Homo sapiens: one gene and its partners. The protein of the gene in region 2 interacts with the protein of the main gene of each other region in a biochemical or structural test. Each region holds a gene or a part of one and is shown on either strand. Other genes may lie near its edges. The genes, in order: CNRIP1, NSRP1 and CNR1.

Region 1 (11,780 bases), on a different chromosome or scaffold from region 2:
GAAATGAATCTCTATGGCTGTTCCCACATATGACCATTTTGCTCCTTTTAAAGTATACAAACAATCTTACAATGTTAACAGCAAAGAAGGCATTGTTTAGAAAAATGATATCATTGGGCCAGGTGTGGTGGCTCACCCCTGTAATCCCAGTACTTTGGGAGGCTGAGGTGAGAGGATTGCTTGAGCGCAGGAGTTTGAGATGAGCCTGGGCAACATAGTGAGACTCCATCTCCACAAAAAATTTAAAAATTGGCTTGGCGTGGTGGCATGTGGCTGTAGTCCCAGCTATTCAGGAGTCTGAGGCAGGAAGGTCTCTTGAGCCCAGGAGTTTGAGGTTACAATGAGCTATGATCATGCCACTGCACTCTAGCCTGGGTTACAGAGTGAGATTCTGTCTCTTATTAAAAAAACAAAACAAAACAAAACAAAACAAAAAAAACCCCCGATGTCATTGGGAATTACTTTTAAAAAATAGATTTCCTAGTTTACTTTTCACTACCATTTACAAGAATGCACATTTCTACATTTTAACTTAGTTTCTTCTTCTGGAAAATGTTTTGTCAATATTTCTGTTGAAGATTGGTATTTTTAAAATATCACAGACTCTTGAAGAAGTGTCATATTTCTATTGTTTTATTCTCACTTTATACTGTGTAGAGACATAATTTCTTATTTTTCTTTATGATTTCTATTTAAAAATCAAGTTAACTTTTCTAGTCTATTTTGATTTTTCCGTAATTTTAGATTTTATAATTTAACTTTCCCACCTTATTTAACCTTAATTTATATATTTATACCTATATCATTTTACAAAGAATTTAAGAAGGTATTTAGCATTTTATATAAAATGAAAAAACACACATAATGATGGTCTGAAATATAAGCATATTAAACATAATGCTTGGTTTGAGCTTAGATTTGATGCTGGGCTGTCTGGTTGCTGGTGCAAAAATTAAAAAAACACAGATTGTCAATTATCAGTGATTTTAATGTTTTTGCAGAACTTTTTTTTTCTACCCAATAAGACAGCACATGACTAGATGAACAAGAGAGATGCCTGCCTCTCCCCACCCCTTTCAGTGAGCACTGAAATATCTCAGGTGGATCCAGAATTCAGAAAACAGTCCGAAAAAGGAGTTAAATCATCTCATCATTAGAAGGGAGAGAAATATTCTCAGTTTCCCAGAAGAAAAAAAAGTTAAAAAGCCTTTCTAGCTCTAATTTGTAACAAAACAAAACAAAAATAAAAATGAAAACACTCCACATGAAACATTTAGGGCATTTAGCTGTGAGCTGTTTTTACACACAGCTATTTCTTAGAGCAAACTTTCATAACCTTTGAAAGCCCAGTGTCAATGTGCAACTCAGTTAAAGTGCTTCTAAACTTGTTTAAGGGTGTTGTTTTTGATGGCTTAACTGGTCTATCAGTAGCATTTAATATTTCTAGAGGTCTAAAAATACATTTTAAAATTCTGTAGAAATGGATGTTTTCCTCAGAAAAACATAATAGTCACTCAATAAAACCCCCAAAAGGCAAAAGTCATGTGCTAAATTGAGAATTCAAGACATTCCTTCTAAATATCTTTATTTTTGGTCCTGACTTTTATGGGAAATTTCTGTCAGACTTTCAAGTAACAGTTAAGTTCTATGGTATGTAAATTGTTTCAGAGCATAAACTATAAAAAAGTTCCTAATTCACTTCACAAAGCTATTAACCCTAATACCAAAATTTAAGACTGCAAAGGCCTTCTAATTGTTCTTTGCTTTTCTGTCTCCACTTCTAATCTAAGCACTGGCACTAGAGTGCTTTTAAGGTGCCTATCTTATCACATTACCAGAAAGGGGTACTTCTCAACCCCTTGAAAGACTGGCAGGAGAAAATGACAGCCCTATCTGTTGGAAGTGGCAGAAGACAGCATCAGGACTGGCAGAGAAGCTGGAAATAACCTAGAAAAATCCTGGAAGAAAGAGATCTGCAGAAGGAATAGAACCCCAAATCTGACTATAAACTCTGCTGTAATCCCTAGCTAACTGCATATGAAGGATAGTGGGACATGGACACCCTACAGGGGCCATTGAAAAAGCAGACAAACCAGCAAAAAGTCAATCCTTGAAAGATAAAGTTGTGCTAAGATTAATAGCTTCTTTATATTTACGTATGTATGTATGTATGTATGTATGTATGCATGCATGTATTTTGAGTACATTCCCTAACCTCAGAAGTAGGTATCAGAGTAAAGAGTTTTGGATTGGCCAGGCACGGTGGCTCACTCCTGTAATCCCAGCACTTTGGGAGGCCGAGGCAGGTGGATCACTTGAGGTCAGGAGTTCGAGACCAGCGTGGCCAACATGGTGAAACCCTGTCTCTAATAAAAATACAAAAATTAGCCAGGTGTGGTGGCACGCGCCTGTAGCCCCAGCTACTCTGGCGGCTGAGGCAGGAGAATCGCTTGAACCTGGGAGGTGGAGGCTGCAGTGAGCTGAGATCGCACCACTGCATTCCAGCCTGGGCAACAAAAGTGAAACTCCATCTCAAATAAAGCAAAACAGTTTTGGATTGATAGAGCAGCTGGAGAAATAGGGGAACCTCAGGGTGGGTATATCCAAAAATCTCAGTATAAGCTCTCCAGTTCCTTGGCTGACTGCTAAGCTCCATGGGCACAAAAGGAGACCAGGCTAGAAAAGCAGCAACTGGAAGTTATAAAAACTGAGCAAAGAGATCAGCTGCTGCATACTGCTGGAAGATAGAATTTGAAGTTTGAGTACAGGAATGTTTACTGCCAGCTAGAATACAAAAAACCAGTAATACCCAGAAGAATAAAGCAGAAACTAGAGTTGGTAATAAACTATCCACAATGTTAAGTTTGTGGCCAAAAATTACGAGACATGTAATGAAACATGAAAGTGTGACCCATATTAAAAAAAAAAAAAGTCAGGCTGTAATAATTTACTCTAACTAGAGCCAGGTGTTGGATTTATTAACTACTTCAAACCAGCAATTACAAATGTGCTCAGATAAATTAAGGAAAACATGGTCTCAATTAGCCAACATAAGGAATCTTGAGAAACTGAAACTATAAAAAAGACAAATGAAAATTCTAGAGCTAAAAAATGTTATAGAATTTAGAAGATAAGCACAAGACTAGAAATAGAAGAATCAGTGAACTTAAGGATACATCAGTAGAAATGATCTAATCTGAAGATCCATTAAAAAAAGAAAGAAAATTGAACATGTCCTCAAAGACTTATGGGATAATACCAAGCTTTTCAACATATGTTTAGTTGGGGTCCTACAAAGAAAGGAGAGAATGAAGTATTAAAAAAGTATTTAACAAAACAATGGTTAATAATACTCCAATTTTGGTGAAAACATTAACCTCTAGATTCAAGAAATTCAGTGATCCCCAAGGGGGGAAAAACCAGTTAAGATGCATCATAACCAAACTACTGACAAGCAGAAAGAACTCTATGAAGGGATCATTTTACTGTATATGTATTATACTTAAGTTAAAATATTTCAAAGCAAACAAGGGAAGGGAATAAATATAGGATTAGAAAACAATGAAGTAGAAAAACAGAGTGAAGCATGTGAAAAAAAAAGCTAGGATTTTGAAAAGGCCAATAAAACTGAAATCTCTAGCTAGACTAATCAGAGGGTATAAAAATAAAAATTTTGAATAACAAGAGTGAAAGAGTAGGTCGGGCGCGGCAGCTCATACCTGTAATCTGAGCCCTTTGAGAGGACAAGGTGGGCGGATCTTGTGAGGCCAGGAGTTCGAGACCAGCCTGGCCAACATGGCAAAAGCCCATCTCTACTAAAAATACAAAAAATTAGCTGGGTATGGTGGTGCGCACCTGTAATCCCAGCTACTTGGGAGGCCGAGGCAGGAGAATTGCCTGAATCTGGGAGGCAGAAGTTTCAGTAAACCGAGATTGCACCACTGCACTCCAGCCTGAGAGACAGAGTGAGACTCCATCTCCGGGGAAAAAAAAAAAAAAAAAAAAAAAGAAAAGGATCAAAGAGTAAAAGAGTAGACATTATTAGAGATCCTAAGACACTGAAGAATGGCGGAGATTATAAACAACTTTATGGGAATAAAGTTGAAAATTTAATTGAAATAAATGACTTCTAAGATAAATTACAAAAACTCAGGAAATAAAACCTGAATAGCCCGATATCTATTAACGAAATTGAATTTGTAATAAAAAATCTTCAAATAAAGTATAATCTATGCCTTCATTGGTGAATTCTGACATTAAGAAAAATATCATTTCTATATAAACTCTTCCAGAAAATAGAAGAATGAACACTTTCCGAATCATTTTATGTAGCCAGCATTACTCTGATACCCAAAACTAGACAAAGGCATTATAAGAAAAGCAAACCATAGACAAATATCCCCCCCGGAACATAGATGTCAAAAATCCTTAACAAAATATTAATGAATCAAATCCAGTTTTACATACCGAGAATAAACCATGACCAGTGGTATTTAACCTGGGAATTCAAGGTTATTTTAACTTTGAAAAAGCAAGGTAATCTACCATAAACAGAATAAAACACCTTATGATCATTTCAAAAGATACAGAAAAACTATTTGAAAACATGTTATAATACGTTCATGATTAAAAAAACATTCAGTAAACCAGGAATAGAAGAGAACTCCTTTAACCTGATAAAAAGATTTACAATAAAGAACCTTACAGCTACTATACTTTGTATTGAAAAACAGAATGCTTTCTCTCTCAGACTGAGGGACAAGAATGTCCACTCTCACCATTTCTATTTAGCAGCATACTGCGAAGGTCCTAGCCATTGCAATTAGGCCATAAATAAAATGAATACAGATTGGAAAGAAAAGAGAAACTATTTACAGATGACATGATAGCATATTTAGAAAATCCTAGGGATCCTCCAAAAACAGCTATTAGGATTAGTGAGATTAGCTAAGTCTCAGGATTCAATATCAATATACAAAAAAAATCGATTTTATTTCCATATACCAGCAAAGATTCCATTTACATTATTCAAAAATATGAAATAATAAATTTAACAAAATATGTATAAAGTCTGTAGAGGAAATACTGTAATATATTGTGGAGAAAATTAAAGATGACCTAAGAGATATTTCATGTTCATGGTATAGAAAACTCTATATTAAGATGTCAAATATCTTTAAGTTGACCTATAGGTTTAATGGAAACTCTATATCCCAATTTTTGGAGGAATTGACAAGCTCATTCTAAAATCTATATAAAACACAAAGGACCTAGATTAAGCAAAAGAACTTAGAATAAACAAAGCTAGAAGATTTATGCTACCTGTTTTAAGGACTACAATATAGATCAAACAAGATTGTTTTGGGTCTTCTATGTCTTTGGAATTTCCAAATTAAAAAGACATACATTGAGTATGTAAAGCAACTAGAATTCTCATACACTGCTGGTGGATATACAAAATGGTACAACAGTGTGGATATTTCTTACACAGATAAACACATACTTACCATGTGATTTAGCAATTGTCCTCTTAGGTATTTACTCAAGAGAAATGAAAATATGTTCACACTGAGACTTATACTCAAATGTTCACAGCAGCTTTATTCATAATAGCAAAAGCTGAAAACAACCCAGATGTCCATTTATTGGTAAAGGGAGAAATTATGGTATATCCACACAACATAATATGCTACCCAGAAATAAAATGAACCAACTACTGATATGTGCAACATAGGTGAATCTCAACATTATACTAAGTGAAAGAAGTCAAACAGCACTGTTCCATTTACATGAAATTCTTACATAGTTAAAACTAACATATTGAGATGGCAAGCTCAGGATAGGTTAGGTTGGGAGGAATTAACTGCAAATAATTTTCAGGGTAATAGAAGTGTTCTGTTATCTTTATTGGGGTGGTGATTATATAGTAGCATCTACTTGTCAAAACCTATGTAACTGTAAAGTTGGTGCATTTTATGTTAATCATATCTCAAAGCTGATTTCAAAAACTTCAATGATTTCCTATAGTCATTAGGATAAATCCAGTGGCAAAAAGGTTCTATATCATCCAACCCCTACTTACCTCTCTGGCTTTATCTTATACTGTCTTTGCCTCACTCTATGCCCACCATGTTGGGCTTCTCATCCATTAGAATACATACGCTGTCTCCAGCTCTTGACTTTTACAACTACTCTTTCCTCAAATGCTCTTTCTTTCCTCAACTCTTATTCATCCTTCATTTTTTCCTCAAGAAAACCATCCCGCAAATCTTGGACTAGGATAAGACCCTTGGTATATACTCTAACAGCACTACTTTTTTGCTATACTTTTCATATTAGCAATTATTTACCTTATCATTGATAATCATGTATAAAGTATGTTTCCACCCTCAAGATCAGAAATTCTATGAAACCCGGGTTATCTATTTTGTTCACCACTCTTCCCCCTGAGTCCCTGATATACAGGAAATCCTCAAATATTTGCTGATAAAGCAAGCAAATTTTAAAAATCTAAAAATTCTAAATAAAAGAGCATATAGAATTTAGCAATATATTAATAATACATGTTTAAGTAGGGCTTATTGTAAAAAATAAGGTTTAGTATTTGGAAGTGTATTACTTTATGTAATTCATCAAATATATCAAATAAGATAAATTATCTCCAACTACTGCTACTAGCTGTAGTTGACTGCTAGCAGCAGTCAACATTATTCTAGAAACATTAGACAATGCAATATGACCAGGAAAAAAAAAGACAGTTATATTCAGATTCTGACCATCTATATGAAAAACCCAAGATGATTTGCTGAAAAATTTTAGTAAGCAAGTTCAGTAAGGTGGTCAGTTACAAAGTATATGAATACATATTATAAAAACAGTGTATCTAAAACAATGCAGTATTGGTGTAACAATAGATAGATCAATGGAATAGATTAGGGAGTATAGGAGGAGATAAAATTTTTGCAATATAAGAAATTTCTATGAAACTGACCTTTGGAGAAGCATAGATTATTTAAATAATTGTATTAGGACACTGTGGGCAAATACTTTCCAATATAAAAGTAAGAACTGAAATAATATCTAAATCTGTAATTCATCTAAAATTTAACAAATGAGACCATAAGAGTTCAGATGAAAATACACAAATGCCACTGTGTATATGTCTATATATAATTAATTAATCTGGGAGTCAAGGAAGACTTTCTAAGCTGGATCTTAACTGCAAAATAATAAAGGAAAAGGCTAACATGTTTGACTACAAAATTTATATTTTATATTGTAAACAAAATAAAAATTAAAATATTAAATGAACACTCAAGATGTGATAAAAATGACGATTTTAAATTTATAAAGATTTTTCAAAAAATCAATAAGATACACTTAAGCAGAAAAATGGGTGAAAACTATGAACATATAATCCATGAAGCAAATACAAATAGTAAATGAATATGTCAGGATTTCAAATTAACAGTAAGTAAAAATTGAAGTATTTCAGTCAGATTAAAAATATGTAAACATGACAAACTATACCTAGTGCAGAGAGAAATGGATACTTAAATACAGATGATAGGCGTGTAAATTGCCTAGCTTTTCTGGAGGTCAGTGAGGCAGTCTTATAAAATGCCTTAACGTGCACATTTCTTCTAGAAATCAAGAAAACATTAGACAATTGTACAGTACTCAGTGATTTGTAATGTGGTTTTGTTTATAATACCGAAAACCAGAAATAATCAGCAATAAGTGACTGAGGATAATTTGATACATTCATAAAATACAATACCCATACAGACTTTAAAATGACATTCCATATATATATATGGGCATATATTTGACATTGAAAGATGTATACAAGTAGAAAAAAGTATATATATGGAATGATACTCAAATATATATATTTAATGACAGGGTCTTACTCTTGTCACCGAGGCTGGAGTGCAGTGGTGTGATCATAGCTCACTGCAGCCTCAACCTCCTGGATCCAAGTGATCCTCCTGCCTCAGCCTCCCAAGTTGCTGGCACTACAGGTGTGGTATCACCACACCCGGTTAACTAAAAAAAATTTTTTTAGAGACAGGGTCCCACTATGTTGCCCAGGCTCACACATATATATTCAAAGACATAGAAACAACTTTCTAAGAACATTTATTGACATGTTAACAACACTTCTCTCTTGCAGGAATTATACATTTCCCTCATTTTTGTATTTTTCTGTGTTGAAGGTTCTTTGACAGAACAAGAGCACTTTCTAAAAATAGTTCAAACATTGGATGCAAAGGGATGAGCTGCTAGATTATTTCCTTATGTGACTATTGTGGTTTTAAAAAGTATAATGGGGACTGGGAACACTTTAAGTTTCCAAAGGTTAGATAGGCATTTCTCAAAGTGCATTCCCACACCATCCTCTTCAGGATCTGGTATGCTTGCTAAGAGTTTCTCTGTCCCCACCCTAGCTCTACTGAGCTAAGATCACTGGAGAGGGAACCTAGGACTGGAATTTTAAACAAACTCCCAAAGAGATTCTCACGCATACCGATATTTGAGAACCCTTGTGATACTTCCTATAAAGCTAGAGGGCAGACAGTTGAAGGTTGTTCTTGCAGAGGGAAAAGGCTGCCCAGTTTGCAAGCAGCAGTTTAGGTGAAGCTTCCTTTTCCTGTGCTTTAGCAAGCTTGCTTCATCACCTATTTATTATGTTTGCACATATAGTTAAATCTATGTCTTGACTCTATCCTTTCTACCAATTTGTTTTTTCTTACTTGGGGCCATATTACCAGGGTATATCATTTTATTATATATGATATCTGATAGGATTACCAGATATTATATATAATAGGTATATATAATATAGGTATATATATATTATATAGGTGTATATATAATAGGTATATATTATATAAAATAGGTGTATTATAGGATATTATATAAGAGGTGTATTTTTCCCATGACACTTTTTTTGGCTCCTCCATTTAGCTTTAAGTAGCAAAGTGTCATTCAAATCAGCTTTCTCTTAACCAGAATATTGTGGCCTACTTGGAATCAGAAACTTTTCACAGCCAATTATCTAAACCAGTTCTGAAGTAGACTATAACTGGGAAAATGGCAATGTAGGTTCTGTCTCTTCCAGAACCATCTGCTTCTGCTTATGGTGTCTTTTCAGCATCTACAGGGTCAGTCTGTCATGCAAAAGAGCATTAATTAAGTAGTTCTCTCTCCAGCAGATGCTTGAAGGAAATCCACAACTCAATTTCCACAGTAATTGGCTCCCAACACACCTTTTCTTACAGAGAGATAGTGATTGTTTTCTTTTCTGTGGTTTCCATTTTCCATGGCACCATACTCCTATACCCGCAAGCAAGCCTTACCGGCATGGTGATCTGGATGGGTTGCCGTTCTCCACTCTTCGTTGGGGTCACACCTTCTGTGTCATATGTACCCGTATAAACAACTCTGTCCCCATCAGGCTCTTTAGACTTCAGTTCCAGTGGGACAAGCACACCACCAATGGAAATATTCCTGCAATAGACTTGAGTTGACCACATACGGTTGAAATTAGCCTAGGCACCCTGTCCTGTTTTGGACCAAAACTCTAGGCAGGAAACTTACAGGGTTTCACTAAGGGGGGCATTGTGGTGCGGGAGAAAGTTCTGCAAGTTCAGGGGGCAGTGCTTCTCCTATTTATGAATTAAAAACCTACCTATCCCCAGCCCCAGACATTAGGATTCAGTTGGCCTGGGATGTAGTTTGGACACTGGTACATTTATTTTAAGGTTATCTAGGTGATCTTAATATGCAGGTAGGATTGAGAATACTGAACTCGTCCTCTAATATTTTTTTTCTCCTGTTCCAACAATCAGGGGTCCTATGATTTGGAGTACCTCAAGCCTTCTACACCATCAGAAATTCTCACTGGCATCATTCTTTTGTGTTAGGATAATGGTTCTCAAAGCCAAGTCCCTGGACCAGCAGTATCAGCATCACCTGCAGACCTTAGAAAACAAATTCTTAGGCCCTACCATAGACTAAACTAGAACTTCTAGGGAGAGCTCCAGCATCTGTGTTTTAACAAGCACTCCAGGTGATTCTGATATATACTCAGGTTTGAGAACCACAGGATTAGAGTTGAGAAATCCTTGATAGCATTAAAATGTAACCAGAAAAAATAGTTTTATTCCTAACAAATTAACTTTTAGATTAGTTTGAACACTAGAGGAATACTCTAAAAAAAAAAAAAAGAAATATATTAACAGATAACTCCGGGGATAAGGTTGGCAGGAAAGAAGGGAAAGGAAAAGCCTGGATTATATCCAGGTGCACAGAACACTGGGAAATGTGAGAATAAAGGGTGCATGGAGCTGTGGGGGATGCTGACAAATAGATGAATCAGGAGTACCAGAAACCATCCAGATTTGGTTCTAGGTCCTTGCACCTTGGAAGGCTAATACAAGTTTACTGAATTAAAACGTAAGCTATAAGTAGTATCTGATGAATTCAAAGTCCTTCCACCCCCGCAATAATGCCCACCATATGTAGTAGATACAATAAATGCTGGTTTATTTTCTCTCTGCAGACTAGACTTTGGTAGGTAGAAACGAGAGGTAAAGGGGCTCCACCCGCAGTTCTTCCGGGTAGGCTACTGCATGCTCCCACACACTTTCCCGCCAGAGGTCTACTGGGTGCATTATCCAGCGGTCGCTGGCAAGAAATCGTCCCTGCCATGGATAAACCAAAAAACATCCTCTTGCTGTGGGGATGTTGCTAATCCCAGGCACCATCACCAGCCTGAACAGAAAACTCAGGAGAAAAAGAACAGCATACGGCATGGAAAACCGTGAAACTAGGCCAGAGAAGGGGCGGCCGCTCTCTTACTAGTGTCTGCTGCTCCACCCCAGGGTCCCAGCCACTGAATGGCGAAGGGAGTGGGGAGCATCCCTCAGGGAGCCCCAGTAATCACCCCTCCCCTGCCTTTCCACCTCATTCCTCCTTTCTCCCTCCTTCAGCCTTGCGGGCAGACCCTGTGGGCCGCCTGGACCGCGCGCAGGAGGGCTGGGATTGCGGTGGCTGAACCCTGCGGACCTCTCCCATCTGCTCCACCCCGACCGCCTGCGGTTCCGCGCCCAAGGCTGGACAGAAGGCAGGAGAAATTTATAAGAAACAGACAAGCAAAAACCCTGGCTTCTTGTCACTGATTTTAAAGAACCCACTGAGGTCACTGCGATGGGTGGAGGGAAGCGAGAATGGAGGAATACAAGCCAAAGGGAAGGAAGGGGACGAAGGCGGACAGGGAGTGACCTCTTCCTCCAACCCCCGGGCCCGCTGGGAGCGGCGCGAGGCCAGAGGCCCTTGAGAGGCTCGGGCTGTCCTGGGGGCCTCAGTCCTCTGCCTGTACCCCATGGGGGACCCTGCTGCCACCAGGCGCCCCGCACTCACTCGACCTGCAGCGTGCTGGGTTTAATCTTCACCTCAACCTTGTAGGAGGAGCCGGTGAGCAGCTTGATGGTGCGGTTCTGGCCGAAGCGCTGCCCGTCCACCTTGTAAAAGACCGGGCCGTCATTAGGCTGGATGCGCAGCGCGATGGAGAGGCGCACGAGGCCCGGCAGGTCCCCCATGTCTGGGCGAGGGTCTGGCGCGGCGGCTCCGGGGGGCGGAGGACAGCGCCGGCTGCGGCCGAGTGGCTGGAGCGCGAGGGGCGGAGAGGAAGCGCGGGGAGGGTGAGGGAGGTGGTGGAGCTGAGGCTGCCGCTAGGAACCCGCGCCGTCGCCGCCGTCCGCCCGGGCTTTTGA
Region 2 (8,940 bases):
TGTAATCCCAGCACTTTGGGAGGCCGAGGCGGGCAGATCACCTGAGGTCGGGAGTTCGAGACCAGCCTGACTAACATGGACAAACCCCATCTCTACTAAAAATACAAAATTAGCCAGGCGTGGTGGCAGGCGCCTGTAATCCCAGCTACTCGGGAGGCTGAGGCAGGAGAATCGCTTGAACCTGGGAGGTGTAAGTTGCTGTGAGCCGAGATCATGCCATTGCACTCCAGCCTGGGTAGCAAGAGCGAAACTCCATCTCAAAAACAAAACAAAACAAAACAAAACAAAACCTGTACTGGATTAAGGAAAAGGCAGATAGTTCCCCTCCACACCCCCCTCAAAAAAAAAAAAAAAAAAAAAAGCAGGGAGTGGAAAGGTAGTTAATGCCTGTAATCTCAGCACTTTGAAAGCTGAGGCAGGCGAAATTGCTTGAGCCTAGGAGTTTGAGACCAGCCTAGACAACATAGTAAAACCCCGTCTCTACAAAAAATTAGCCAGGCGTGGTGGCATGCAGCTACAGTCCTAGCTATTTGGGAGGCTGAGGTGGGAGGATCACTTCACCCTGGGAGGTCAAGGCTGCAGTGAGCCATGATTGCATCACTGCACTCTAGCCTGGGTGACAGAGAAAGACCCTGTCTCAAAAACAAATACCAACCCCCGCCAAGATACCCAAATGTTAAATGTTAATAAAGATGTGAGAGCCATCAGGGAACCACAAAATAAAACCATGAGATACCACAACACCTACCAGAGTAGCTAAAAGACAAAAAGCCAGAAGACAAATACCAAGGGTGAGCAAGATGTGGGGCAACTGGAACTCTCATACATTGATGGAGGGAGTGCCTTTTAGTTCAAATATTCTGGAAAACTAATTGGTAGTTAACTACTAAAGCTCAACATGAGCATACCCTATGAATCAGCAATTCCATTCCTCAGAATTACCCAACCAAAACATACATGTATGTACTAGATGACAAGCGCAAGAATGTACCTAGAAGATACATTACCTAGAAGATATTATTATTCATAACCCCAAAAAGAAATAACCAATGTCCATCAACAGAATGTAGTAGTAAAGAATCTACAAAACAAGCAAAACTACTCTAAGGTGCTAAAAATCAGAAAGAGTAGGCTGGGAGAGAAGTTTAAGGGGAGCTCCTATGGCACAGGTAATGTCTTTTTAAACTAGGTGTACTGTGTGAATCCATTAAGCTGTAAACTCCATGTGCAATTTAAACCTTATACTACAACAAAAAAATTTACTAAGAGTGTTCTGGTAACTTTTGGCACAGAGCTATCATGAATGGAACCTTGTATCAAATAGGACTTTTTGGGTTGTGACAGCAGAAATCCAATTCAAACTAACCTAACAGAAAAAGGGAAAAGTATTGGTTTAAATGTCTTAAAAAAAAAAAAAAAAAAAAAAAAAAAAAGCTACACTAGAGCCAGAGATGCAAAAGCAATCATCAGGTTTTTTGTTCTTCTCTCTGTCTGGCTTTCTTGTTGTGGGTTTTTTTTCTGCCAGGCAGCAAGGCACTCTCCATGAAACTCCAGACTTACCTCATCGCCATAATCAGCAATGACAACAGAAAACATCTTTCTGTAAATTCTGACAACATGACCAGCATCAGCCTAGCTTGAGTCACATACCCTTACTGTAGGCTATTCTGCCCCATTTGAACCCGTGGACTAAGAGTAGTAAAGGTGTGTTTTCTCAAAGGCAAATCCTGCTGTTACCAGGAAAAGGGGGAATGAATACCAGAGAGGCAAAACCAACATTCTGTATATTTGGAGGAGACAGAAGAAAACTCTTCATTTGCAGTCTCTCATCCTGATTTATGTCAAATTAAGTTGGTTAATAAAAGTAATTTATAGCTTTCCTATCTAAGGATCCAAGCGGCTTTGTAAAAGTCTCTGAGCTTTTCCCTCTGGGAGAGGGAAACTGAGTTTATCATCAGATGTCTCTGACATCAGTCTCTCCTCCTAGACTACCTTGCACACTACGATCAAATTAATCTTCCCAATGCATGGCTCTAGTTATAAAACAATCCCAAGAAAGAAACCATACTCCCCACCAAAGTTAAAGATTTTTTCTGTCACTCATGGTCCTTCCATGATGTCACCCTTTTACCTTTCCATACTGATGTTATGTTGCTCCCTTTTTGTACACCAAGTCAGTGATTTTGGGGGTTTGTCACTGTCACTGATTGACTTTAGAGTATTAGGATGTAACTGACATTTAATCTATCAGTCAGAGATTTGGGCGTTAACTTTCCTGTGACTTTTCCTTTCTGGTTTTAAAGGTACAATAAAATGATTTATAAATTCTAAATCTGACCCTTAATATATTTCATCTAGTCAGCATTCTTATTAAACCAAGTTTATCCTTCTAAAAATAAGAAAGTGTGCTCTTTAGGTAGAGTATTGTGAGATATATGAACAGCATTTTCTTAATGGGAAGACCTAGTAGAGAACTATTTTCTCCACAGCATTCATCTTTCCCCATAAATAAAATATTTACAGTGTATAATTATTTCTCCTGAGTTTCAAAGACTCAGAAGAAAGATACTAGTTTTATTTTTATACACAAGTGGAACTTGTAATAAACTGCACTATCTTTTTCAGAGTAGGTGAAACAAGACATGTTTAGAAACAGGCCACCTAGATCTTTAGCTAATTTCATTTAGGCTAATGTCTCCACAGCTTCACCTTTAACTAAAAGTGATTTACATATATAACCAATTTACTAACTTGTCAAGGTTTCAGAATTACAAATTAATTTCTACTAAAAGCGAAAAGATGAATTGTGACATGAGTAAAATTATTTTAAAATAAATGCATAAATAAAATGTATAAGCATATCATTTTATTTTCATTTAAGCCAACTATGCTGTAAGCTATTTAGACAAGATGATTCACATTTTATACTTAAATACAAATTTCAGAACATAAAGTATATTTTCTGTTTTTCAAATCCATATTTTATCTGAAATACATTTCCTGCAACAAAACATTATTAGAAGAGTTAAATTATTTATTTAAAAAAAATTTTTTAGAGACAGGGTCTCATTCTGTTGCCCAGGTTGGAGTGCAGTGGCATGATCATACCTCACTGTAACATCAAATTCCTAGGCTCAAGTGATCTTCTTGCCTCAGCCTCTCGAACAGCTGGGACTACAGGCATGGACTACCATGCTAGGCTTTTTGTTTTTTAAATAGAGACAAGGTCTTATTATCCTGCCTAGGCTGGTCTTGAATGCCTAGCCTCAATATCCTTCTGCCTTGGCCTCCCAAAATGTTGGTATTACAGGCACGAGCTACCGTATCTGGCCAAAATTATTTTTTAATGGTTGTAGTGGAGCAAATTTTCCTCATTATGTACCTACAGGGAATTAGCACACTCTTAACGGTTCTTGAATACAACAAAGAATGTGGTATTGATGAGTACACACTATATATAAATTCAGCCAAACATCCACATCCAAACATCCAAGCTGTAAGACTGACTTTTAACTTAAAATTTTGAAAATAAATTTAAAAATGCCCTCCAAACTACTGGTAACACACTCCTTTATGGTTTTACGCAGCAGGTTCCAGGAATTACAGTTTTCTGTGCTTCCTTAAATCTTTCTCTTGGGGTAGCCATCAATCATCTTCTTTCTCAATATAGGTCTTTGCATTAACCCGCGCCATCTGCCTGGCCAAGTACCTGTCTCTAGCTGACATTACAGTTTCTTCATTGTTCCGCTTTGCAAACTTGCTCACTGCCTCAGGTGGTCTCTCTTGTTCTTTACCCTTCTCTTGCCCTTCCTCTGTGAGTCTGTGTTTTGCTCCCAGTGATGATTCAGAATTAGAGGGTTTCTCTTGGTTTCTTTCTTTGTCCTTTGCCATGTTTCTCATTTTGTTGGATCTTTCTTGGTCAAGAAATTTATCCTTTGCCCTAGAATTTGGGCTGCTTTCCTTTCTGTCTTGATTTCTTTCTGAAGACTGAACACCTACCTCTCGTTTTTCTCTATCTCTGTATTTATCATTATTTTCATATCTTTCCTTCCTTACTTTCATATGCTCTTCCTTTGCTTTGCTTTTCTCTTCCTTCTCTCCTTTCTCACTGGGTCGGTTCTGATCATTTTGTTGTCTATCTCTTTCTTGTTCTCTTTGGGAATATTTCTCCCTATCTTTCTCCCTTTTCCATACTCTGTCACTTCTTTCTCTTTGGTCCCTCGCCCTTGGTTTATCTTCCTGTTCATGCCTCTTCCAATGGGAATCTCTATGACTGGCCTCTCTGTGCCTATGAGAATCCCTTTCTTTCCGGTAATCACGGTCAGTGTAATGGTTCTCTTGGTCTCTGGATTGCTTCTGCTGGTGCTGATCTTCCCTTTTCTCATGTCCTCTCGACGTTCGTGATCCTTTCGTGTGGTGCCTGGTACTGTGCCCTCTTTCTTCACTAGGTGACCGAGAGTGGTTTTGACTCCTGTGGTGCTTGAAGTCATTCTCAGGGGTCTCTATGACCTTTTCCCTTCTGCAGTTCACTCTAGTTTCTTCTATTTCATCATCCGCACTGCTCTTAGCATCGAAGTCACTGTCTGCATCTGGGTTTTCCTCTACTTTCACATCAGTTTGAAGAATGCATTTCTCTTGTGGTATTCTGTTTTTTGAACTTACTTCATTGGAGAAGCCCCTTGATTTTTCTTCCTTTATACCAGATCTTAGAAACAAAAAACAAAAAAGGGCAGAAAAAAATGCCACATTATCAGTTGTAATAAGCAAATGAAGGGTTCATATAATTTTTATCAATACTCAAATCAATACACCTATAGTGATATATACTGTCTGATTATCCAAATGCAAAAAGGTCCTGATGTCTATGCAAACTAGTATTTTCAAATTCATACCATTCAGAATATTTTCAATATTTGTAGAAGTGAAAAGAGAAAATTAGCCCTTGTCTACTATACTACTAGAACCTACAGGCAAGGGTCTGTACAGGTCTTCATTTTTTGGTAAGCCTAAGACAAAGAATAATTGGGAAAAGTAATAAATGTTCTGAATCTAAGTTCTATTTTCACAACATGAAGCTTAAGTTGTGACTGTTGGATTTGTTGTTTCCTTTCTTATTTATTTATTTTGAGACATTCTGTTACCCAGGCTGGAGTGCAGTGGCACAATCTCGGTTCACTGCAACCTCTGCCTCCCAGGCTCAAGTGATCCTCTCACCTTAGCTTCCCGAGTAGTTGGGATTACAGGCCTGCACCACCATGCCCAGCTAATTTTTGTATTTTTAGTAGAGACAGGGTTTTGCCATGTTGGCCAAGCTGGTCTCAAACTCTTGACCTCAGGTGATCCAACCACCCTGGCCTCCCAAAGTGCGGGGATTACAGGTGTGAGCCACCATGCTTGGCCTTTTTCTTTTTAAAAAATTATAAAAATAGTCCTAGAAATACATGAAGATAATCTTTGCACAGCAAAATAGTGGCAAATATAATCCTAAATATTTACTCTCTCTCATGAGTGTATCCTGATTCACTCCTTGGCACCTATCACAACAAAATGGAAATATATTAATTTGTCCATTAGAATCAACAATACTAAAATTATATTACCTTCATTGTTCCAGCTGGCAAGTACAGTTAACTTTATAGTATGAGTATAATGTAAATAAGAACCACTCAGTGATTCTTACTAATCACTTACTAATCACACTAATGGTGCAACAACTTTGGTTCTCCAGGAATTACTGGCAGAACTATCTTGGCTAAAGGACCCACTAACAGTTAGGAATTCGATTATTAGACTCTAAGAAGTACAACTATGTCAACGACATTACAGAGTTTCATGGCAGCCTAATAAATATTCCAGATGAAACTCTAATACAAAGATATAACGTAATATAATTTCCATTCAAAACCTGAATCTTCAAATACATTTTCTTAGGTTCATACTTCTCACCAATTTTATAATCAAAGCCTAGCAGCGTAGGGAGGGAGTGGGGCATAAACTTCCTCTCCTCACCTTAATTCTATTCTCCTACCTCTTCCCTTCCTTAGCAACACAGACTCAGATCTACCCAGAACATTCCTGTTAAAAAAAATTTTTTTTTTTTTGCTTAGGACAGACTCTTTTACCTTCAGCTACATAATTATGGCATAATCATCTCACCATTCCTATAATACCTTATAACTTTATTCAAAAATCCTCTAATCCTTTACCTTCTAGACCAGCATTAATAGAAATGCCTCAAGAAATGGTAATGTTCATATGTGAGCTGTCCCCAGTATGGCAACCACCAGCCAAATATGGCAACTGAGTATATGAAATGTGGCCGCTGTGATCAAAACTTTAAATTTTATTTACTTAATTTTATTATTTATTTATTATTATTATTTTTTGAGACAGAGTCTTGCACTGTCACCCAAGCTGGAGTGCAGTGGCGCAATCTCAGCTCACTGCAACCTCCGCCTCCTGTGTTCACGCCATTCTCCTGCCTCAGCCTCCCAAGTAGCTGGGACAACAGGCGCCCGCCACCACGCCTGGCTAATTTTTTGTATTTTTAGTAGAGACGGGATTTCACCGTGCTGGCCAGGATGGTCTCAATCTCCTGACCTCGCAATCCGCCCGCCTTGGCCTCCCAAAGTGCTGGGATTATAGGCATGAGCCACCGTGCCCAGCCATTTTATTTTTTGAGATGGAGTCTGGCTCTGTCGCCAGGTTGGAGTGCAGTGGCGCTATCTCAGCTCACTGCAATCTCCGCCTCCCGAGTTTAAGCAATTCTCCTGCCTCAACCTCCCCAGGAGGTGGGATTACAGGCATGTGCCACAATGCCGAGCTAATTTTTGTATTTTTAGTAGAGACAGGGTTTCACCATGTTGGCCAGGATGGTCTCCATCTCCTGATCTCATGATCCACCTGCCTCAGCCTCCCAAAGTGCTGGGATAACAGGCGTGAGTCACTGCGCCCAACCTACTTTATTTACTTTAAATTAATTTAAGTAGCTACACGTGACTAGTGCCTACATACTAACAGTGCAGTTCTAGCCCCGATATGTAAGTCTTACATTTTAGGAAGGCTGGGTTCTATTTATGAAAACAAACCACTTTCCTTTTTATACACTATCTGAACATGTATATAAGACTTATATTGTAGACACCTAATTCTTTCCAACTTTCTCCTTAATTCTGACAGCAAAATCATTTTAAGGTACCAGGCACCAATCATTTTAAGGATCATGAGGAATACCCACATTCTTATTTAAAAAAAAAAAAAAAAAAAAAAAAGCAGCCAGGTGCAGTGGCTCATACCTGTAATCCCAGCACTTTGGGAGGCTGAGATAGAGGGGGGATCCCTCAAACCCAGGAGTTCAAGACCAGCCTGGGCAACATAAAGCCCCATCTCCACAACAAAAATACAAAAAGAGGCTGGGCGTGGTGGCTCATGCATATAATCCCAGTACTTTGGGAGGCCGAGGCGGGTGGATCACCTGAGGTCAGGAATTCGAGACTAGTCTGGCCAACATGGTGAAACTCCATCTCTACTAAAAATACAAAGATTAGCCGGGCGTAGTGCATGCACCTATAGTCCCAGCTACTCAGGAAGCTGAGGCACGAGAATCCCTTGAACTTGAGAGGCAGAGGTTGCAGTAAGCAGAGATCGCGCCATTGCACTCCAGCCTGGGTGACAGAGCAAGACTCCATTCCATCTAAAAAAAAAAAAAACAAAAAAAAAAAACCACACACACAACAACAACAACAAAAAACACAAAAAGAAAATTCGCTGGGCATGATGGCTTGCACCTGTAGTCCCAGCTACTTGGGAGGATCATTTGAGCCCATGAGGCAAAGGCTGCAGTGAGCTATGATTGAACCACTGTACTCCATCCACCCTAGGCGACAGAGTGAGACTCTGCCTCAAAAAAAAAAAAAAAAAAGAAAAAAGAAAAAACTACAATTTGATTTTGCTTTCCCTTGAAGATTTTGCTCTCCCTTGTTAAGACCCATAAATCACTTAAAAATTCAGAAACTTTATACATTAAAAGTCTGTCTTTGGTTTTACAATAATATTAAACTCAATCACTGTTTTAATGTAACAATTTCTGTGAAATGCAGAATAAAAATGATCTTAAACTAAATCTGTAGGTTTTAAAATCAAGAAACTGCAAATTTCTAGCCATTCATTCAGTTAGGTAAGGCTGGCTGACAACACAATATGCAATGTTGTAATCTTCCATCTTTCAGAGGGTTAAAATGACCCCACAACCACAGATTATTAACAGTATTTTTCTTCAAAATATTTCATACACGTCTCCTCACCTGGCTTCACGAAAGCTGCATTTAGGTACTTCCTCTTCACCAACTGCTTGATTTAATAGGTGCCTATAAAATCCACTGAGATCTTTCTGCTTGGTTACATCCAAACATGCTAACAGAGGGAAAGCAAAAATTAGAATATATTCAATAAGGCACAGTGCAGTTTCATTTTACAGACATACAGTATATAACATACAGTGTGTAAACTACTCGCTGGATCAGGAGTTGGCAAACTGCAGGCCAAATCTGGCCTGTTGCCTGTTTTCATAAATAAATTTTTATTGAAACAAAGCCCTGTTCATTTATGTATTGTCCACAACTGCTTTTGTACTACAAAGGCAGAGCTCAGTAACTGCGACAGAGATCATATACACAAAAAGCCCTAAAGTATGAATATGATCTGGCATTCAAAATATGAATTTATAAATTTAAAGTCTTAAAATATGAATACTAAAATACTATCTGGTCCTTTACAGAAAGTTTGCCGACTGGCACTCTAAACACATAGTACATGCTTAGACAGAATGTTATAGACTTGGTTTTCTTCTACTTAAAAGCTGAAGAGGATGGGCGCAGTGGCTCACGCCTGTAATCCTACAACTTTGGGAGGCTGAGGTGGGTGGATCACCTGAGCTCAGGA
Region 3 (12,725 bases), on a different chromosome or scaffold from region 2:
TCAAAAGCATATTAGAATTTATCGCTAGCTTGAATGTAATACTCCTTAAAACTTCACTCAATTTTCAGGACTCATATTGATTCCAATTTTCTTCTCTAAAGTTATGATCTAAAAGAATGAATAAAGAAATGGTGAAGGAAAGAGGGGGACCCTCTCATTTAAACATAAATTTTGAAAAACATAATTTCCTAATTAATTAAGAATCCAAATAAGAGTGGAAAAATAAGACATTAAGTAGTAAAATATTGTATTTTAGGGCAAATTTATTTGCCTTTTGTGTTGAGAGAAAAGGCAAACTAAATTCTTGCATTCAAAAAAATGCAAAATGTACTTTTGAAAACATTCAAAAATATAGAATATTATGCAATAGCACAATGGGTTAAAAAAGAATTTGCTCAAAAATAATGATTTCCATCTAACCAGTCTCTACATATTCAAAAACAAAAGAAAACAAAGCAAAGAAAGCAAAACTTTGAAAGCTTTCTTAAAGTGCAGGTGTGAACATTTCTCCAGCTGGGGCTCAAATACAATTCATAGTATTCCCAGAACAACTGCAATGACTCTGCCATGCCCATTTGCTCGGGTTTTGGGAGTAAACAATTCTTCCCTCAAAAACCCATACAAACTATGAACCTCGAGAATTCCATGGTGATTAAGTTATTAGCTTAACCTGTCCAAGTGAAACTTAAATTAGAGGCTGTCCATTATTAATTCATCTATATGGAAAATACTTCAAATATATGGAAAATATCAATGGAAACTAGATCAAGAATATATACATGCAACTAACTGTCCTCTAAACTATTATAAAAAATATACTTTTTTTCATTATGGGGCCTTGTTAAATCAAGAAATATAATCCAGGAAAGCTTTTAGTAAATACTTTGATAAGAACTAAAGATAACTACACTACTTTATGTCATGACTTTGACCTCTTATTAGCAATATGTATTAAACATGCCATGTGAGCAAGTTTGAGATGGAAGTTGCTTGCTCTCACATCAAACAATTTCAAAAGCAGCAAGAGAGGTGACAGCGTCTACTAAAAATCACCCACCTTACAAACCTGCCCCCCTAACAAATTTCCTATAGTTTTAACTCACTTGTGGTAACGTTGTAATGTGTTATATATAAAAACTATAACTATCTTAATATGCATTCTGAGATATGGTAATAACCTTCTGTATTTTCCTCCAACTTGTACAGCCCTAATTTCCAAAAAATAATAAACAACTAAAAGGATTGGCTAAAAAGAAACTGTCTTAAACCCATCAGTGTTTATGATAAAATTATAATCAAATGTGGTGATGTTCACCCTGGCATACTTGCAAGATTCTTAGAACGCATGGGACTGGCACGGATTTCCACCTATCCTGGAAAACAAGAATGGCCTCGTTTCCATTCAAGGTGGATATCTGCTTTAACTCTTCAGTGTCCATCTGCACAGCTGCTTTGAATGCGGACATTTCCCCAAATTTGTAGTATTTATTTAAAATCAGAATTACATGTTCAAATGTATAAAGGCAACATATTTAAATTTTTATTTCAGTCATGATTTACATCTATAAAAATGTTTATACATGTAAATAAAAGTGTGTTTCTATGTCCAGGTGTCCAAAATTACGCAATATATACTTTGATATTATACATATATTCTGGGTGAAGTTACTGTTTCTTTTAATCCAGGAAACATTTTGGAGAAATCTGAATTTATAAAGTCAATCCAATCTAATCTAAGAATATACAGAGAATTAAATGCTTATCAAAGTATTAACTAGCAATTCAGTGGCAAAAAGTTGAATCCCCCAAGTCCCCAAAAGCAGCATTCATGCAGCCATAATATAAAGTTACCATTTCTCTGAGGATAAGATTAGGAAAGAACTGGAGATTCAGGGAAGAAAACATGAAGTTAAAATTTTGGCAACACAAAGTATATAAACTGATTTTGATTTCCTCTTATTCTTTGACTTCTCTACCAGTCTTCAGTATATAAGAGAAAAATCAGCAAAGCAGGCTGCCTCTCAAAATACAGATATGCAGTATGTAAACCTGGCCCTAGCACAGTGTTTCAAACAATGTTGGGTCCACATTGTTTTAGAGCCAACAGCAGAATTATAAATAATTTAAACCCAAAGCCTGGTTTCACTCTAACTATTTGTCAGTTCAATTAGAAAATGATAAATACAAAAATAGAAGAAACAGACTTACACTGGTGGAGGCATGGCATCCTTTTCAGCAGGGAATGAAAGCTCTCATCTATGTTCTTTATGCAACTGAGCTAACATGGAATTTGGTAAGTAAGATGGAGCCTGTCCTTTAGGTTACTGCCTGTTATCATGCTTTAATTGCTTTAATTAGCATTTAATTCACTGTATATTCTTAGATTAGACTGGATTAACTTTATAACATAGATCAATTCAGACTTCTCCAAAATATTTCCTGGAATAAAAGAAGCAATAACTTTCACCCAGAATTCTTATAAATTCAAGAAGCTATAACCAAATCTTTCATTTTGCTAGTTATGTGTCATTAGGTATTTTCCAATTCAATTTGTTACTCTTGTTTTTGCAGCATTCCTGGATAGCTAGTTATGGGAAATAATCCCTTATTTGGCCAACTGTTTTCTGGTAAGAAACATTTGGTAAGCGTGGTGAACTATAAACTGCTATTAGAAGTTCCATCTCATAATAGTTTATTCTTACATAGCAAAGTATTTGATTTCTAATTCCAAACACTAATATGCAAGACAACCAAGAAGCCTGTCTAAATTTCCCCGTGGTTAATGTTAATTTTGAGTCAAAGCAAAGAACAGTGTTATACGACTGTTTTGAAACAGTTTCTCAGGCTTTGCCTTAGTAATTAATAAGCTGACACTGCATACTAAACACTTATCAACACAATCAATGGGGCTGCTTCCTTCTTGGGAAAATAGGTAAACCGAATCAAAGAGTTTTCTTTTGGAAGAGGCTGAAATATGCCACAAATACAGTGGTTCTTTTTGAGAATTTCATTCCCAGCAGTTTCATCTTGGTAACATTTAACAATTTCACTATTTTACCATTTTGAAATGCCAAAAAGAACACACTGATCCTGCAGCTAGGCTTATTAGAGAAGAGCAATCTCACAGGCAAGACAGAGAGGAACATGGTCCACTGGGAAATGGGTAACAGAAAAAGACAGAAAACAGTGGATAACAAACAAAGCCAAGCACTACTTCAATGTGAGACCTGGTGTTCATCAGAATTTAAAACTTTACACACTAAATAATAATCACTTATGGCTTATTTAAGGTTCTAGTCATAACATTCTTTTTACATACATATATTAATGTTATTAAAATTCAGGGGCATGAATATCTAATTTGCTTTCCTAACAACGAGTATGCAAGCACAGTAATTTTATTTGTGAAAGGCCAGAATTGGGTATTTCCACCTTGTGGCATCATTGTACCCCCATGGACACTGAGAAACACAATGAGACCTCTCCCCATCAGACACTTGATACATACCTCAGCCAAGAGCGCTCCTCGCCTGGAGTGGGAGACATCTTTGAAACAAAAAGAGTCGGTTTACAGTAAGTTCTCCTGATAAGCTAAAATGGATTAGTTTTTTAAAACCATGTCCCACATCAAGTCTCTTGCCCCACTATGGTAACTGCCATTGTGCCTACAAATAAGTGCCTGTAGTATGCAATGTTTAAAATTCTGGAGGTGCATGTCTTCTGCTCATGTATGGATATAATCTGAAAGTAATTTGTCTCACTTAAGAAACTATAAATGGCCTTTTATTTTTATAAAATTGCTCTTAACTGAGTTAGAGAGCGGGGGAGGGGGAGGAGTACCAGGGAAAAAAAGGACAGAGAAAAATCAATTAGTGTATCTTCCCTTGCAAACTGTCAGTAGGGTAGGATTAGAAAAGCAACACTTTAAATCACATAAAGTCCTATGGGAACCTTAAAGGTTGGTTGCTCTGAGCTTCTCAATATTCTGCAAAATAGATTGATGTCAGTGGTGACCCCACTAATACTCAGTGTCCGCTAAGCTTCCTCTAAGAAATTGCATTTCCCCCATTGTTCAAAAGATATTAACTTGGTAATAAAAATGAGGAGAAGTTATGGGACCCACAGAGATATCTTTCAACACCTTTAAAACCAGTAAATCTGTTCTAATCTCTTATTGGATTACATGCCCGAGGAGGCTTACTATATCAGGAAATCAACAACAAAGGCAAGAATAGCACTTATTTGGAGGAAAATAAAAAAAGATGGGAGGCAAAATGATTAATACGTTACTAAACATTTCTTTTGTTTTTTTATCTGTTCAATTTTAAATATCTGAGAGACAATCTATTAAAATCAGAAACATGCATGTTGCTTTTAAACTTCCAAATGACCAAATGACAGTTTCTCATGTCTATTACAGCAAACATATTTTTATTTGAGAGGTGATCCGTTTATGATTTGTAAGCCTTAACAAGAAATGTCTTTTAAAAATGCAACATTAACTTTAGTCATCTAACAGCTAGTTCTGAGTTAAACGGTTCCATCAACATTCAATTTTAGGTATTAGTTACATGGACATTTGTTTTTCCTCAAAGAGAAGTGGTTCCTGTAGCTTTTTATCAAAAGTTTATTATTTGACATACATCTCTTTATATGACATTTACTATTTTACATTAGTCAGTTTCTAGGCTTGCAGCAGAGATCGATGTATTTCCCTGGGAAGACTTAGCTGCTAACATGGTTTATAGGCATTCAGCACCAACTCAAGCGCCCGTTTTTCAAACATGCACAATTACCCATTTTCTACAAACAGACATCAGTGCATACAGAGCCAGGTGCACACACATTCAATAAATAGTAAATGGTAGAAATCTCCAGAAGTAGAACAGATCACAGTTAACAGGCTGGGGCCATACAGCTAAGTAAACACCGACGCACGATTCGCTCACACGGAATAAGAACTCCACGAAGGACACTTGGGGACCACACTGGTCGTACCCGAGGGGGCGGGAGGCGGAAAAAGTATTTCCAAACGCAACTCTGCCAGGTCTTACCCTTCGCATCCCCTGGTCCTCGGGACAGAAGCTCCCTTGGCACCTCTCGCCCAGCTCAGGGGCTGGTTGTCCGCTAGAACGAAATATCCCCCACTGACTACGGAGAGCTCTGCAGGGAGCCGAGGCCCCCGCCCGGGCCAAGGGAAGGCGCTGGCGCCGCGGGAGACAAGAAGAGGCGGAGGCGGAAAAGAAGTGGAGAAGGAAGGGGTGGCAGAGGGAGTAGCGTGCGGGAGGCGGCGCCGGCGCCGGGCTGCTGGCGAGGCGGGGTGGGGTGGAGTGGGGTGTGCCTCCGGCGGGCGGTCAGCAAGTCAGTCCGTCCGAGCGCCGGCGTCCCGGTCTCCAGCGCCCGCCCGCGACAGCGACCGGGACTGGCGCCCCGCTGCTCCGACCGCCGGCGAGCCTCGCCCCTTCCCAGGCTCTTCACTGGGTCCTCCCGCGAGCCCCGCCTGGCCCGGCGTGGGGCCGCCCGTCTCCGCCAGCCCGGGCGCCCGTCGCCTCGTCCCGCTCGCGCAGTCCCTGCCGCTCCCTCCGCTCGCGCTGTCTCTGGCTCCCTCTCGCTCCAGTCCCATTTATGAAGCGCGGTCCCATCACGTGTTAATGAGCCTTTGTCCTGCCCTGGCAGCGGCGGCGGCACAGACCCCGCCGAGGGAACTGCGCGGGGAGGGACCTGAGCGCAGCGCCCGTAGCCCCAAACTTTGCTTGGGGCGGGGGACCCGCCGCGGCGCCAGCCCTGGGGCCAGAGGGGACAAGCCTCTTCGGCCCGCGTCACCTACTTCTCCTCTTCCTCCTCCTCCTCCGCCGCCGCGCTCCCGGAGGCCCCCGCTGCCATGACCTCGCTGTGCTCCCGGATACCCTCACACCCTGACCAGGCCAAGAAGGGGCTGGTGCATGCGCCGCCCACGACCTCGGGGCCATTAATCACACGCTCCCGGGCAGCGCGCATCGCCAACACCTTCCGCGGGGGTCACGTCTGGGGCAGCGGGCTGAGCCGGAAGGGGAAGGGGAGCGGGAGCCCAGAGGCCGAGGCGCGCCGGGCCCGGGGGTGCGGTCTCGCGCCCCCTCCCTCCGCGCAAGGCCGCTCCCGTGGCAGGCGGCAGCGAGCTGGGCCCGGGGCCGGGCTGAGCTTTGGGACCGCGCTGCGCAGCCCCCGAGCCGTTCGCTACCTGGCTGCGGTCGCGCGGCCACCTGTCCTCCGCCCTCGGGGCGCCGCCCAGCTTCGCGCCAGGCGCCTTCTCCAGCGCCCGCCGCCCTTTCCCGGCGAGACCACTCGGGCGCGCCCCGCCCGCCGGTCCCCGATGCAAACAGTTGGGCTCCGTAGGCGGCTGGCTCCGCGCCTCCCGGCCCGGCGCGCCCCCTCCCCGGCCACCCGGGGCCCCGCTCCTCGCACCTTTTCGCTGGAGGAGGACGCCCCACTCCAGGGCCGGACTGGGGGCTCTGGGACTCGGGGGCGGCAGCGGCGGGCGCCTGGGGAGCCGCGGTGTGCTCAGCAGCCGCGGCAGGAATTAGGGGACATGCTCGTTAATTGTTTCCACTATCAGCCGCCGTCTGCCTCCTGTGTGCACGGATCAAACCTTAATTGGTCTTTACATTTATCATGGTGAATTGCGAACCTCCAAACAAGCCTGGGCCGCCGCTTCTGCCGAGGAGGCGCTCCCCTCCCCTCCGCCCCCGGGGCCCTGCAGGGTGTGCGGCGGCGGTCGTGGTTATTTAGACATCTTTATCTCTCGTGAGTTGGATCGGGAGAGGATCGCACGGTTTCCACCTGACGGAGCCACGTCACGTCGGCCACAAGGGCCCCGTGCTGGGCGCTGGGTTCGGTTCCCGGCCGTCCTCTTGTGGCCGCCTTGGCGTTCATTTTATGACACCTTGCCGGTGTTCCCAGACATCATCCCGCACCGCTCCGTTTTACCGACCTCCAGGTCTTCCCGCCCCTGATCAGACCCCAACAGCAACCGTACTATATCTGGACCCTATATTTGAACTACGTGGTGAGAATCTGTGAAAGCGAGCCTCTCAGGGAAAGAAGGAAGATTGTTGAGTTCAAGGTCCTGGAGGAGGGAAGGCTGTAAAACCGTTTTGGAAACGTCAGGCCAAATCGTACAAAGGCTTCCCGCAGAGCACTAGTGCAGTTTTTGAAAATCCCCCTAGACTGCTTTAGACTAGAAGTATTTCCGTCAAGCAAATGACCATTTGACTCCATTGAGAGAGAGAGTCCACCGCTGAAATGATTAAGTCCTACTAGGTGGGTGGTTAGAAAAGGTTATCAATAAAGTTCTGATGGACCCATCGATAGATGGAAGAATGACTGGGAGATAGATAGTAGATGTGGGATTAGTGCTGAGCCTTAACCCTGCTGCTTGGGGAAGGCTCTACTCACAGGCATTTTTAGCCCACCTCCATGGCAGAGACAGCTCCAGCGCAAGATTCAAAGGGAGGAGGCTTCAACATCTGTTGCTTTTTTCTTTTAGGGGTCGTGGTTGTTAGATTTTCCCTTCACCTCACACCCCTGGCAGTAGGAAATATTTGCAAAAATTTTCTCTCCTTATGACCTCGCAGACTCTGATTTCCCAAGAGGCCAGATGACAATAACTTCAAAGTCTCTCCTCCACCTGGCAGCTCAGTTTCAAATGACTGCTAGTAATTAAAAGAAAGGATCAAGGCAGCGCTTCCTCTGACTGTGATAAGGACATCTTCAGTCACAAGAAACCTGGGGGAGCTGGACTCCTAGAATGCTTTCAGGCCACAGGATTTCACTTGGGTGCTACCACCCTCCCCTGTAGCTGGAGGGCGTGAGCTGTTGGAGTGGCAGAGCTGTTCAACATCACTCAGCTAAACAACACTGACACACCCTGGTGGTGCTCCTTCTATAAGGAGCACTTTCCCACATGTTGATCTATACCTTCGTGGTGGTCAGCATCAACCTGTGAAAGGTATTCCATGGAAATCTTGTATCTCAACTCAGCCACACCAGCTTTTGCTTTTTCATAAAGAGGAACAATCTGATTATTGTGTCTCTAAGTCATCCCAAATATCTTCTGATTGACGTTGGGTTTCTTCACTGAATTCTATGAAATTCCAAGCAGAAACCTAAGATCGTTGATGGGCCAGTGTGACCTGTGGCCAGAGCCAATCACTCGGAATCTCATCTAGTAGTGACTCCAGCCGAGATAACTGTTTAGTTTGTTATTCTGTTGTTCAGGGTTGGGGGAAACCTGGAGCCTGACAGCTGAATTGTACTGACTTTCCATTTAGAGCTCAAGGATAATAATCAGTAATGGAGTCAAAATTTGACTTATGACCTGGCATTTTATCACCACAAGTGAATGCTGTGTCAAAAACAAGAGAGTTATGTTCCTTGGCAAATACTGTTCTTGTGGGCCTTCATGTGCATCTTTAAATTTTCGTCAAGGTATTAGACTGACAGACAGGAGAGCTGCTGTACTTTTTCCTTGGATTGGGGCAACTGGAAGAGGGGCAGAGATCAGACAGCAGATGGTGCGAGGGAAAGATGCTCTTCGGTACCTTGGAGTTCACATTTTGCAAGGATCACCTTTATGTGGGAGGAAATGATTTAGTTTCCACATGTGGTTGGCCATCCACTGTACTCCTGAGACAGTCAGCAAGAATGACAAATGCAAGCTGTCAGCCTCCCTATTAGGAACATTATGTTGAGAGCATTCATAAATTTAACATGAAGTGCTGAATGGCTCTTGGTCACCACAAACCCAGGTTGAATTTGAATCCATGACCTTCTGAGGAAATGCCCCGGCAGCCCCTGAACAGGCTTCAGTAGTCCCTTCAGTGCTAGGCTGCCTGGTTTTTCAGATCCTTATCCTTTTAAAATTAGAACAGGGCTATGATGAGCCAATTTACTGCCGTTCTGTGTAATTTAGGTTATTCACTCAGTGAAATGTAGAGGATGAGAGCACAGTTAAGGCTGCATATTTCAACTTCAAAGAAAGATCTCAATTTATGCCTGCCAAAGTGTTAAGAGTTCTACTGGCCATAGAGCATCAAGGAAACATGTCTGCTTTGGTGAGATAGCTGTGGATCCAAAAGGAGCTCTACTTCAAGATGTTTTTGGTTTTATTTTATTTTTTTTAACTTGCCATGGTTTGTCGTGCTTCTCTCCCACTCCCCAAATGGGTGGTCTGTTGGGGATGATGAGTCATGATTTCCTGGTTTGGAAAGCGACATCACTCTCTTTTAGAGTTTTGGGGGTTCGGTCCAAGTTTGGTCCTCACGTTTTCTTTGGTATTTTCAGTGTGATGCTCACACTACAGGGCTGGAACGCTCACTGATTAAGGACATTTTAGGAATGATATTATGACTACACGATTTCATTCTAATTCGGAGCATTGCTTTAGAGTTTCGACAGCTGTTATTGGCTCTCCCTTGAAGCATTTTGTTTTTCAGTGGCTCTGCATTACTAGATGGGAATCTGCTTCTTCACTCCCAGTCTAAAGGGTAAGTGTCAGTAAGCCTGCAGACTGGGCTGGGGCTCTGCCATCCACAGCGTAAGGTCTGAAATGCCTGCTCGTGAGTTGCTCCACCAGCGATGCGAGCAACTGAAAGAAACTCCTGCACCACTTCTGCGTGCTTCTCAAGAACTACAAGTTGGTGTTGGAAAAGAGATTCTTTTTCACTCAACTGTCAGAAATTAAACTTTGTGAGACCTGCTCTAGGTGGAGAAGTGGGTTGCCAGGGTAGGCAATGAATGGGTAAGGAAGGAAGGGCCATGGGCTTGTTTGACCTTGGGAGATACTGCGTTGTATTAGGTACAAAGAAAATTGCTGCCACTTCTCAGTGATCTTCCTGTATAACTAAATATTCGCTCATTAGGGCTTTTTGTTGTTGTCGTTCACCTTCTCACCTTCTTTCATTAAATCCAGATCTTTAACATCCCAGCTGAGCAGCACAGGGAAGGCTGAGAAATGGCAGGAAGGCATTTTCCTTTGTTCATATGTTTTGTTTTGTTTTTCATCACCAAGCAGAGGATTGGTAATGAGGAGATGGATCATCCTTTCATTTCAAACCATATGAGGAGTATGTTCCAACAGATAATAAACAAGCACATCGTGCAAAGAAGGGGGGTGAGGAGGCAGGTTAATAAAGCTTTTGTTCTCCTTTGATTAAACTCTTACAAACGAGTCATCAAAACTTTCCAATTAAAAGGCTATAAATATTATATGTCTAAATATTTCACTTTTAAAAAATAGGGCAAGCAGCAGTATTATAATGCTAAAATACGGCAAAGAATAGAAACATACTACTAAAAGATATGTACTTCTTAATCACTTGGCCTTCCGAGTAAACTCTCTTCTTGGTGTTCTTCATGGTTTATTTCAACTTCAGGTAGAAGCTTGGAAAAAGAAAAAGAAATGACCATCTATCTTGGTCTATGAGGATTAAATGAAACAATATACATAAAACAACCAGGCTGGTACCTGGAAGTTAGACTCTCAATCAGTGATTGCTGTTTTTATTTCTCCCACAACTTCTGCTACACTGTTGCTGCATCTGTGTTAAGTGTATGGAGAGGACCACAGCCTGGCTGAGGCTCTTTAATTCTCAAGCCATAGAGCAGGCAGCTGATTCATAAACAAAGTGCTCACATTTTGAGGGTTTCTTGGGGCTCAGCTGTGACTTCTTTGCTGTCTCTCCCATTCTAAACAGATGCTGTAGATTATCTGCTTTGCACAGTGGTCTAGATGTACTGATACCTTGAGAAGCCACCATTATCTACTCCCTGCAGTTCACCAGCTTTTCCTTGAAATGCAGCTGCCAGTAAAAATGAGAATTGGCAAAAGCCAATGGGGTGTGCGGTTTATCTTTGGATGTCTTGTCTGGCTTGTTGTATCTAAAACATTGTTAAAGAAACCGGTACAGTTTAGGCCTTATTGAAGAATTGAAAGGATCAGATTGTTTTTGAATTTTTTTTGTTTAAAGAACCATTAATTTAGACAGGCTGTAGTGGAGATTTGAGAACATTTGGGGATATAGATTTTACCCCCAGCTCTGGTGCTGATGGCCCAGGCTATCATGCACCATTTCTAGGCCTCATTTTTCTATTCTGTGTGATGGGAATAACACTAATATCTCTAATTTCCTTTATACAGTGTTTGTGAGTATCTAATAAGGTAGAAATATATTGGTAGAGCTTCAAGAAAAATTCAAACAATTATTATCAATAATTTATTTGATTTAATGGTCCACTAATTTCTTAGTTGTATCAAATTACATAGAATATTTTAATTATTCTTCTTATTTCAAGAAAGAACAATAAATAAATTGTGAATCTTAGAGCTTCGACAGCACTGATTTTTGTATTGAAGGCCCATAAAAGAGGATGTAATGTGTTAATAACCAAGTTAAAGACTCTTAAGCCAGAATACTAGATGAATGTAAAGCATGATTATAAGTATTGAAAGCAATTTTAGTTCATGGCACGATGATTTTTAAGCTGCGAATTAACTGATTGCTGTGGTCTAAGTGTTGGCGTCCTTCCAAAGTTCATATGTTGAAACTTAACCCCCAACATGATAGTACTAAGAGGTGGGAAGATTTGGGAGGGGATTAGGTCATGAGGGCTCCTCTCATGAATGGGATTAGTGCCCTTATAAAACAGGTTGAAGGGAGCTACCTTGCCTCTTTCACCATGAGAAGACACAACATTCATCTCTTCCATCACAGCTTGGTCTTGAACCTCCCAGCCTCCAGAACCGTGAGAAATAAATTTCTATTATTTCCAAATTACCAAGTAATTATACAGGTTTTTGCTATAGTAGCCCAAGTGGATGAAGACATTGATCTACCTGTGATTATTGCTACTACATCCTGCAAACTGTTGCCCACTGGGGGTTACTTTTTCAACTTAAGAGAACATAGCTTCCTTATACATAAAAATCTATAAAACATGCAATTTATTACCCTCTAAAAATATCCTTTTTCTCAAAACTGGGGTTGCTGAACGTTCAGGCTGCATATTCTCCCTATAGTAGGCATTGAGTAAAATAATTATAACTTTATCTCTGTATTGTATGTGGTTCTCAGGCATCAGAAGAACAACTGTAAGTGCAGAAATCCCATGCGAGAAGTTAATTTAGGAGCTATTAATAATTTCTCAGATATGATCTCATGTATTAACTCAGCACAACTCTAGTGTTAAAGTTATCAAAGAGCATATAGGGGGACGATGAACCATTGGTTAATGTTTTTAAAAAAATCTTTAGTTCTGAGCTTTATATCATGATCTGTTTTGAGGAACATCCTAATGTCAAGGCCACGTTCAGTCCTCTGACATCTTCCCTCCTTTGTCACCTTCTAGAGGAAGCCTTTCTTTCCCCCTTCTGCAGTTCTTTCTTCCTTTAATAGCTGTCTTTGTTTTAATAAGGAAACTGTCGGGGGCAGGGTGGAGATAAGGAAAGGAAAAATGAACTGAAGGAATAAAGAAACTACAGGAAAAGAGAAAATAAGAAAGATTTTTCAGAAATATTTATATCTCTTAGAGTCCCTTAAATACTAAAAATTAGAAACTCGAGATGGTATGTGACATTTGTACCCTGACACTTTGCCTGCTGTGAAGTGGTAATGGTGCTCAGCTTTCCCACGGCAGCCCCAAGAGTCTGACTTTAGAGAATTCCTCACATATTCTGCCAGGGCAGACACGTG

What was found.
Region 1: the proteins of NSRP1 (region 2) and CNRIP1 form a complex in vitro, tested with the Homo sapiens proteins (one study listed by BioGRID).
Region 3: the proteins of NSRP1 (region 2) and CNR1 form a complex in vitro, tested with the Homo sapiens proteins (one study listed by BioGRID).

Annotation. Positions count from the first base shown.
Region 1 is NC_000002.12:68,307,795-68,319,574, forward strand, and holds part of CNRIP1 (CB1 cannabinoid receptor-interacting protein 1), read right to left. Parts: 5' UTR 11,607-11,780; coding exon 11,428-11,606; intron 9,524-11,427; exon of another isoform or gene 9,514-9,523; coding exon 9,363-9,513; intron 1-9,362.
Region 2 is NC_000017.11:30,180,380-30,189,319, reverse strand, and holds the end of NSRP1 (nuclear speckle splicing regulatory protein 1), read right to left. Parts: intron 8,413-8,940; coding exon 8,304-8,412; intron 4,706-8,303; coding exon 3,646-4,705; 3' UTR 2,845-3,645; downstream 1-2,844. UniProt on the Homo sapiens protein: RNA-binding protein that mediates pre-mRNA alternative splicing regulation.
Region 3 is NC_000006.12:88,160,749-88,173,473, forward strand, and holds the start of CNR1 (cannabinoid receptor 1), read right to left. Parts: upstream 5,600-12,725; 5' UTR 5,055-5,599; exon of another isoform or gene 4,999-5,054; intron 3,547-4,998; exon of another isoform or gene 2,209-3,546; intron 1-2,208. UniProt on the Homo sapiens protein: G-protein coupled receptor for endogenous cannabinoids (eCBs), including N-arachidonoylethanolamide (also called anandamide or AEA) and 2-arachidonoylglycerol (2-AG), as well as phytocannabinoids, such as delta(9)-tetrahydrocannabinol (THC).